2 separate regions of the Homo sapiens genome follow, and region 1 is linked to region 2. The links come from fine-mapping of genetic effects on gene expression. Tissue or cell type: whole blood. Region 2 holds a variant in brackets; the other region holds the start of a gene. All regions are shown on one strand. Distances are between the middles of the regions.

Region 1 (4,164 bases), 390 kb after region 2:
GTTATCTGTTCTTTCCTGGGAGATTGGATCAAAGTTGCATAGATTCTAGCGGACTAAATATTTGTGAAATTAATTTTGCCAATTCTCATGACTCTAAGAACTCTTTTACACCTTCCAAAGAAGTTTCATAAAGTCCTTGCTTCTGCCTGCAAACTGTCCCAGTTGCCCCATTCTGGCCTGAGCAGTGCAGCCTTAATCCCAGAGGGCCTGCGCTACCGTTACTGGGCCTTCATGCTCCCCTCCCTTGGCTCTGGTTTTGCTCTTCCATAGGGAGCACAAAGTGTACTCTCCATAATGAGGCTGAGCTGTTTACGTGCTAGAACTCCCATTTAGAACACTGGAAAAAGCCAACATTATATCTTTGGCCAACTATTTAACCTTATTTCTTTAGCTATTAAATTGAAATAATAACCATATGTTTTAAAAAGCTTTTAAACCCAGAGCTAAAGACTCTGTATTAAAAACTGGACTTACGGCCGGGCACGGTGGCTCACGCCTGTAATCCCAGCACTTTGGGGAGGCTGAGGAAGGCAGATCACTTGAGGTCAGAAGTTCAAGACCAGCCTGGCCGACATGGTGAAACCCCATCTCTACTAAAAATACAAAAAAACTAGCCGGGCCTGGTGGCGTGAGCCTGTATTCCCAGCTACTTGGGAGGCTGAGGCAGGAGAATCACTTGAACCCGGGAAGCAGAGGTTGCAATGAGCTGAGATCGTGCACCGCACTCCAGCCTAAGCATCCAGCCTAGGCAACAGGGTGAGACTCTCAAAAAAAATTTTTTTTTAACTTATTCTCCTATGTTAATCCTATGTTAGTCTTCTTCCAGAACTCTAGTGATGGGATCACTACCCATCCACAACCTCCAGTCACCTCCAAGACACCTTTGACGCCTCCACTTTCCCAGTCAACCCAACACCAAGCCTCATCGACTTCATTTCCTAAACCCCACTCGAATCCATCCAGTCCTCTCCGTATCCACTGTCACCACCGTCAGTTTAAAACATCGACCACCTCGTTTGGATTCCTGCCAGTCTCCTAACTCGGCTTGAGCCCTGGCAACCAGTTCCCACTGCACTGCGGTCACTACACCCAGGACCTTCCTCACCTTAAATAAAACTGCCCCGAGATTAAAGATCTACACCTTCGCCAGGCCAAAAGGCCCTTCCCACCTCTCCAGTTTCTTCTTTATGCCTAGGCCACACTGGCCATTCGGTTTTTGAAATACAGTACTCTCGTCCTTGGTTTAGGAAACGCCAGATCCTTAGCGCATTCTTCTGATTACCTTCCAAACTAAGCCAGTTCTCCCATCCCTCCCCCAATTTACTGAGCTTAACACTGAATGCTTCTACAGTCCAGTTGACCTTTCCTTTAAAACATTCATTACAATTACAGTTTTGTGATGATCTTAGCACTGCTGTTCTCCATCACTAGACCGTAAACTCTACGAAGCAGGAACAAAATGGACTTATTCGTTACTGTGTTGTGCCTGACAGAATGAATAGTAGTCGATTTTCAGATTCTTCTCTCCATCCTCTACTTTTCTAAGACTTAGGCCTTTCACAACACGTACTTGAAACTGAGACTTCTCAGTAAGAGAACTTCGTTTACTTGGTTCAAGTCTTAAGCCACGGAGCCCACTAAATGACAAATGAGAAAAAAAATCCCAGTCACTTCGCGACCTTCCCCCATAAGGCCTCCTCCCGCAACAGCAGGCAGCAAGAACAACGCATTTGTCCAGCATGTCCTGCGCAGGCGCCCTTCGCCTGGCTCGCTCTGCCCCACCTGTGCCAGGCAGTAAGCCGCAAGAGCACTTCCGGGAGCCCCCGACCCGGTTGTTGGTAAGTCGGCGGCGACGCCCACCTGCAGAACGGGACCGGCGGAGCGCCAGGGCTAGAGACGGGACGTAGCGACGTACTGCGTGCGTGCGTGCGCACAAACGAGGGCGCGCATGTCGGGACGGAACTAGAAAAGCTCAGTGGGGCTGGCGGCAACTCTAGGTCTAACATCCCTCGGAAGTTCGTGCAGCGGCCTCGCTGAAAATGGCTTTACAGCCCGGCAGAACCCTCCGACTCCGCAGCAGGACCTGCGGAGCCTCTCCGCCCTCGGTACCGGCGGGACGGGGTAGCCCTGACCTTCCGGGTGCCTCCTCCACAGGGGCGCCCCCTAAGGCCACGCCCTCCCGATGCCGGTCCGCGCACCGCTCCGCACGCCTCATATTTAGCATTACCTGTGCTGGGGCAAGCGATTGACATACTGTAGCGGACGCAAGTACAGCGGATCTGCGGCGAGTCCCCTTCGCTCTCCGTAGTGGGCGGGGCTTCACCCCGCGTCCTTTAAAGGAAAGGTGATGGGCGGAGCCACGTTTTTCTACTGTTGGGATTCAGTTCCGCCGACAGAAAATGCGGAGAACGCGGAGGAAGTCCCTGAGGGGAAATTGCTGCTCACCTGGCTCCCGCTGCTCCGCAGGTGCGGTGAAGGCTAATGTCGAATTTCTGCAGCAATCGGAGCAGCCCTTACTCCAGTTACATTAACACCAATCTCGGTCTCCCACTAGGGCTTTATAAATTGCTTTCATAAACGTCTTTTTAATGTAACACTGAATAAAATGTTTTATAAGCGTCTTTTATAAGGATCGTAAGTGAAAGGGCGCTGTCTCCGATTTGCAGGTGAGCAGACAGCTTCGGAGTGAGAACGGCTCCCCGCGGGTCCCCGGTGGCGCGCGGCTCCCGGAGGCAAAACAAAGCTGGGGCCGGGGCGTCGGAGCCTCCGCGTTGTAGTTGGGAGAGGTTCGAACGGGGCCCCAGCTGGCGAAAGGGAAAACGGACCCGGACCCGGACCCGTGGAGCCTGCTCGAAAGCCGGGTGCTGGGGGTCTGGGCCCCGTGTCCCCCCTCTTTTTCTTCTTCAATAAGAAATTCCTCAAGGGCAGACTGCGAGTCCACAGTCGTGAAGCCACCTAATCTGGCTTCATACCTGGAATGTTTGGATTCCTGGTACGAAGAAAAACTAACATTTATTGGCTACTTGTCCACTGGAAGGCGTTGTCTTATTTCTCATTAACTCCTTGAGTCAGCATTACGTCTTTTATTACAGATGACACAACTACTAAAGCTTTAAATAGTTCTTTGGGAGCAAAGACGAAATCTCCATTTCCTTTTTAGCTGCTGGTAGCTCGACGCTCACTGTTAAAATAGGGAGGTAATGAAACAACTCTTGTGTGAGACCGAAAGTCCAGGTGTGCATCTTGGCCATTTCCAAGTTAATCAAGAAGAATTAAGGATTCATTTTATTCTATCAAAATTATTTCTCAATGCCAAGATATTTTGTGTGACGTAGATTCGGGGACAGACTGAGTAGCACAATACCTGGGAAAAGTTAGGTGCTCAGCAATTATAATTGCCCACATTTGTGATTGCTTTTGCCTATGTGCCAGACACTGTTCTACGCACTGAACATATCTCAAGTTATTCAATCTTCAGGACAACCTTATGAGCCAATTATTATTATTACCCATTTTACAGATGAGGGAACTGAAACAAATTTGCCCAAGGTCGCACAACTAGTAGCAGAATCAAGAATAAAAAAGCCAAAAAACCCCAAACCCAGGCAAACTTTAAATGTTCCTTGCATTGCTAGACTGAAGTAGTGAGAGAAACAGTAAACAGTACGAGTCCATGAAAACATTAAAAGGATGTGAAGTATGTACAAGTAACTGAAACATTTAATGCCCAAACTAAAGACTTAAAATTTGCTAAGGTAATAGCACAGGTAGATTCACACCAAGTAATCACTGGTAACTGAAGCTACCGGCCAGCATCCATTTGCAGTCCGTCTTTGAAGGCAGCTGTGTCCAGAGCAGGTGGTTTAGGAAGCTTTCTAGACTTCCATTGTCAGATGTCTCCACGCCTAGAAGATGGTGCTTTAGTGTTCCTGGGAGGAGACATGCAGAGATGGGGTGGCAATTACAGACATGCCCACAGATGGAGAGAAGCCATTTTTTTCATCTTTTCCCTTGAACTCTTCTTTGACCTCCAGCCGAAATGGAGCTTGGCAGCTTTTGTGGGGTTTTTTGTTTTTTTGTTTTGTTTTGTTTTGTTTTGTTTTTGGAGATGGAGTCTCTCTGTGTCGCCCAGGCTGGAGTGCAGTGGCGCGATCTCGGCTCACT
Region 2 (4,164 bases):
GCGAATGCTGGTAAACTGTGGTACATCCATACCATGAAACACTCATGCCCCCAAAGCTGGTTCTCTTCCTAGATTCTCAGCAAAAGCCTCCTCCATTGACCTAGCTGTGCAAGCCAGGGAAGCGCAGGCATCCTCCCCTAGGACTCCCTCCCATGGTTAAGGCTTGTCACCTTCTGAACTCTGCTCCACACCCAGCAGTATCTTCTACAAGGACTCATCTCCCAACCCCTGCACACTGTGGCACAGGATCCTAAACCTCATCTCGATTTGTAACTTCACACGCGGAAAGGTAAATTAATGGAATTTCAAATCAGTTCTAATCAATAGTTTAATAGGTAGTAAAATACAGAGTACAAATAATGTGTAGAAATCCAGATACTGCGATGCCCCTACTTTGTGTTCATGATAGGAATTTGTTTTTTGCAGAAAATTTAAAAATACATGTGTTCAACAAACCAATTTAATCAAAATGCAACAACTGATGATTTAGGGAATGATAAACATATGTAGTATTGGGAAAATAAGTCAGATGCTTATTTGCAGCTGTTTTCTGAGGTTTCCATTACATCTAATGGAATAATAATCTATTGTATCTAACGGAATAATAATCTATTCCATTGACATGAAATTTTATGTCTACTTTCCTCCTCATTCTATCATTTTTCCTTCTTAAATGTAAAACTTCAATAGGTTATAAATAACTAGCATCCAGTAAAAGTCCACCCACAAAAACATTCATTTTTGTAGCCTAAGAATATTGTTTGGAAAATGGTTTCTAACTGAAGGAAAAAGCTACCAGAAAAAAAAAAAAAAAAGTTCCAGCAACTAGTTTAAAAACAACACAATCATTGCATTTCTCATCTCAAAATGTGCAGACAGTATATTACTGTCTTGTTTCTGGGCCTGACAGTGGATACAGACTTTGTAATGACATGGCGAATACAGTGGTATCAAAATTCTATTTTATTCTCTGTAATCTTGCTTACGAATGACCCAGTGTGCACTTCAAAGATTGATGATTAAAGATAGCACAGTCATGCAAGGTGAATAGACCATCTCTCAGTTACTTTTTAATGTAAAGTCTTCTATCAAGCTAGTCACGATTCAGAGGCTCCTCAGTCTGAAGAACCTGAATCTTCAAAGGAAGGTGTTTTGAGAGATGGTGGGAAGTGTTTTATTAATGCAGCATAGACTTACCCAACACCAGTAATGTCACTTTGACACCACCCCGCCTGCTCACACTGAAGGTGATATAAACTTGACTGCCACTCTAAAATCTTCAGACTGGTGTTTTGTTCAACCCACCTCTGTTCTAGTCAGGAACTGGTGATGGGATAGTTGCCATCCTAATGACCAGTGGCAATGTAAACTCTCCCTATAGTGTGTTACAGCACTCTAGGTCCAGCTATTTTAAAGGACAAAGGACAGCATAATGCAGAACTAAATATGAGCCCTGGAATAGAAAATATGGGCCCAGGTCCAAAACGCCAGCGTTTTGGGAGGCCCAGGCAGGTGGATCACGTGGTCAGGAGTTCGAGACCAGCCTGGCCAACATGGTGAAACCCTGTCTCTACTAAAAATACAAAAATGAGCCAGGCGCCTGTAATCCCAGCTACTCGGGAGGCTGAGACAGAATTGCTTGAATCCGGGAGGCAGAGGTTGCAGTGAGCCAAGATCATGCCACTGTAGTCCAATCTAGGTGACACAGAGCAAGACTCCATCTCGAAAAAAAAAAAAAAAAAAAAA[A/AT]AATATATATATATATATGCTCAGGCACTAGCTTGGCCATTTACCAGTGACCTTGGGTAAGTTCCCCAGTCTTAGCTGCCTCACCTGGGAAGAAGCTTAAGGTTATCCTGCGCAACCTTCTAGCCCAGGGGTGTCCAATATTTTGGCGTCCCTGAGCCACACTGGAAGGACTGTCTTGGGCCACACATAAAATACACTAACAATAGCTGATGAGCTAAAAATTTTTTTAAAAGGTTCATGTATAAATCTCATAATGTTTTCAGAAAGTTGATGAATTTGTGTTGGGCCACATGCGGCCTACAGTCCATGGGCCGCGGGTTGCACAAGCTTGTTCCAGCCAGTGTTAAGAACCCCACCTATGAACAGTCTAATGACGTACGTTTGACACTTTATTTCTTAGTATGTCAGCTCCTCTCCCTGCTGAACAACCAGGAAGCTCTTACTTGTACTCAGTATGTGGCTCTCTGTCCTTTTCAATGCAGTCCCAATTCAACCCTAGAAGCAAAACATCCCCTAGACAGCAGCTCTTCAAACGATGTATGAGAAGACAGGTGCTACACCCCGTGTAAGTTTTCCCTGAGCAATCCTGAAATGATTTGGTTTTCTGACAACTCTCCCCATGTCAGATCAACTCTGGCTTGGCAGAGACCTTACAGGAACACGCTAGAGAACTCCAGACGAATTGCATCCCACGGAATTCTAATCACCAAAACCCAGCTGATCAGAATCACCGGGGAACTTCTGAAAACTAGTTTTCTCATCTGCAGTGGATCAAAATCTTCAGGGATCAATCTCAGGAATCAAAACATTCTACTAATCATCCAGATTTGATCAAATCAATATAGCGGCACTACTTAAGACAGTTTGGCTAATGGAAAGCAAGCAGGAGGTATGAGCTTTCCTCAGTTATGTTTTATACCACAGTTTAATTATATGACAAATTGTTGAGAACAGGTTTTTTTCTTTTTTGAAATATGGTCTCACTCTGTCATCCAAGCTGGGTTGCAGTGGTGTGATAATAGCTCACTACAGTCTCAACCTCCTGGGCTCAAGCCTCCAAGTAGCTGAGACTACTGGTGCACACCACCACACCTGGCTAATTTTTTGTATTTTCTAGAGACAAGGTCTCCCTGTGTTGCCCAGGCTGGTCTCGAACTCCTGGGCTTAAGCAATCCTCTTGCCTTGGCCTCCCAAAGTGCTGGGAATACAGGCATGGGCCACCACGCCTGGCCAGAACAGATGATTTTTAAAGGATCCAGTTATTTAGATGCATTATAACAGATGTATATGATACAAAATAGAGTAAAATCTTTTTCTCAGGAGTTGGGGCTCTACAGTGGCTGCCTGAGTGAGAATTCCTCAAGAGTAATTTAGGGCCTTTCCTTAGGGAAAGGAAAGGGGAAAATTTAGTTTGATGGAGTCTTAGAAATTCTATTACCCAATAGTATCATAAGTTAATATTCTTAAATTGCAATTATACTTAGTATTTCCAGTCCCTTTGACTGCTGTTGATTTCCAGATTCCCATTTTGGGCTGGACAATCTGACTGCATCCCTGTGATTTCACCAATACTTTCCTACTCTGCATTCCTCCACCTACCCTGTAGAGTTGTATAAATATGTCCATTTATACAGCTGATTTTTCTAGGTTTCCTTTGATTCATTCTCATATGACAAATTCCTCAAGAGCAAAAACTAGGCCTTCATCTTTCTTAATAATGACTTACAGTAAGGATGGAAGTACTGGTTATTGCTAAAAAATCTTTTGATAGTCTCAAACTCTTTCAAAAAGTTGAAGAGGGTGGAACATTTCCTAACTCATTCTATGACAGCAGCATTACCCACACCAAAGCCTGACAAAGACACTACAAGAAATAAAAATTACAGACCAAAGTCTCTGATCAATATTGATGGAAAAATTGTCAACAAAATACTAGCAAGCTGAATTCAGCAGCGTACTAAAAGTATTATGCACAATAACCGAGTGGATTTATCCCTGGAGTACAAGGATAGTTTCACATATGAAAAACACTATAATATATCACACTGATAAGATAAAAAAAACATGTGATCTACTGGGCGCAGTGGCTCACGCCTGTAATCCCAGCACTTTGGGAGGCCGAGGTGGGTGGATCACGAGGTCAGGATATCGAGACCATCTTGGCTAACATGGTGAAACCCCGTCTCTATTGAAAATACAAAAAATTAGCCAGGCGTGGTGGCGGGTGCCTGTAGTCCCAGCTACTCGGGAGGCTGAGGCAGGAGAATGGTGTGAACCCGGGAGGTGGAGCTTGCAGTGAGCCAAGATCACGCCACTGCACTCCAGCCTGGGTGACAGAGCAGGACTCCGTCTCAAAAAAAAAAAAAAAAAAAAAGGGATCATCTCAATTGATACAGAAAATTTGACAAAATTCAATAC

Evidence for each region. PIP is the estimated chance that this variant, and not a neighbour inherited with it, causes the effect.
Region 1: it holds the start of MTIF3, and the variant in region 2 is fine-mapped to the expression of MTIF3 in whole blood (INTERVAL, PIP above 0.99).

The regions. Positions count from the first base shown.
Region 1 is chr13:27,448,282-27,452,445 of GRCh38, forward strand. It overlaps MTIF3 (mitochondrial translational initiation factor 3), which reads right to left and starts at 2,283. Exons shown (of 5, transcript NM_152912.5): 1 at 2,228-2,283. RefSeq lists enhancers at 1,520-2,434, 2,278-2,637, 2,658-2,717.
Region 2 is chr13:27,058,036-27,062,199 of GRCh38, forward strand. It overlaps LOC105370124 (a long non-coding RNA gene), which reads right to left and starts at 4,114. Exons shown (of 2, transcript XR_941767.3): 1 at 1-4,114. The variant A/AT (reference allele first, on the strand shown) is at 1,747.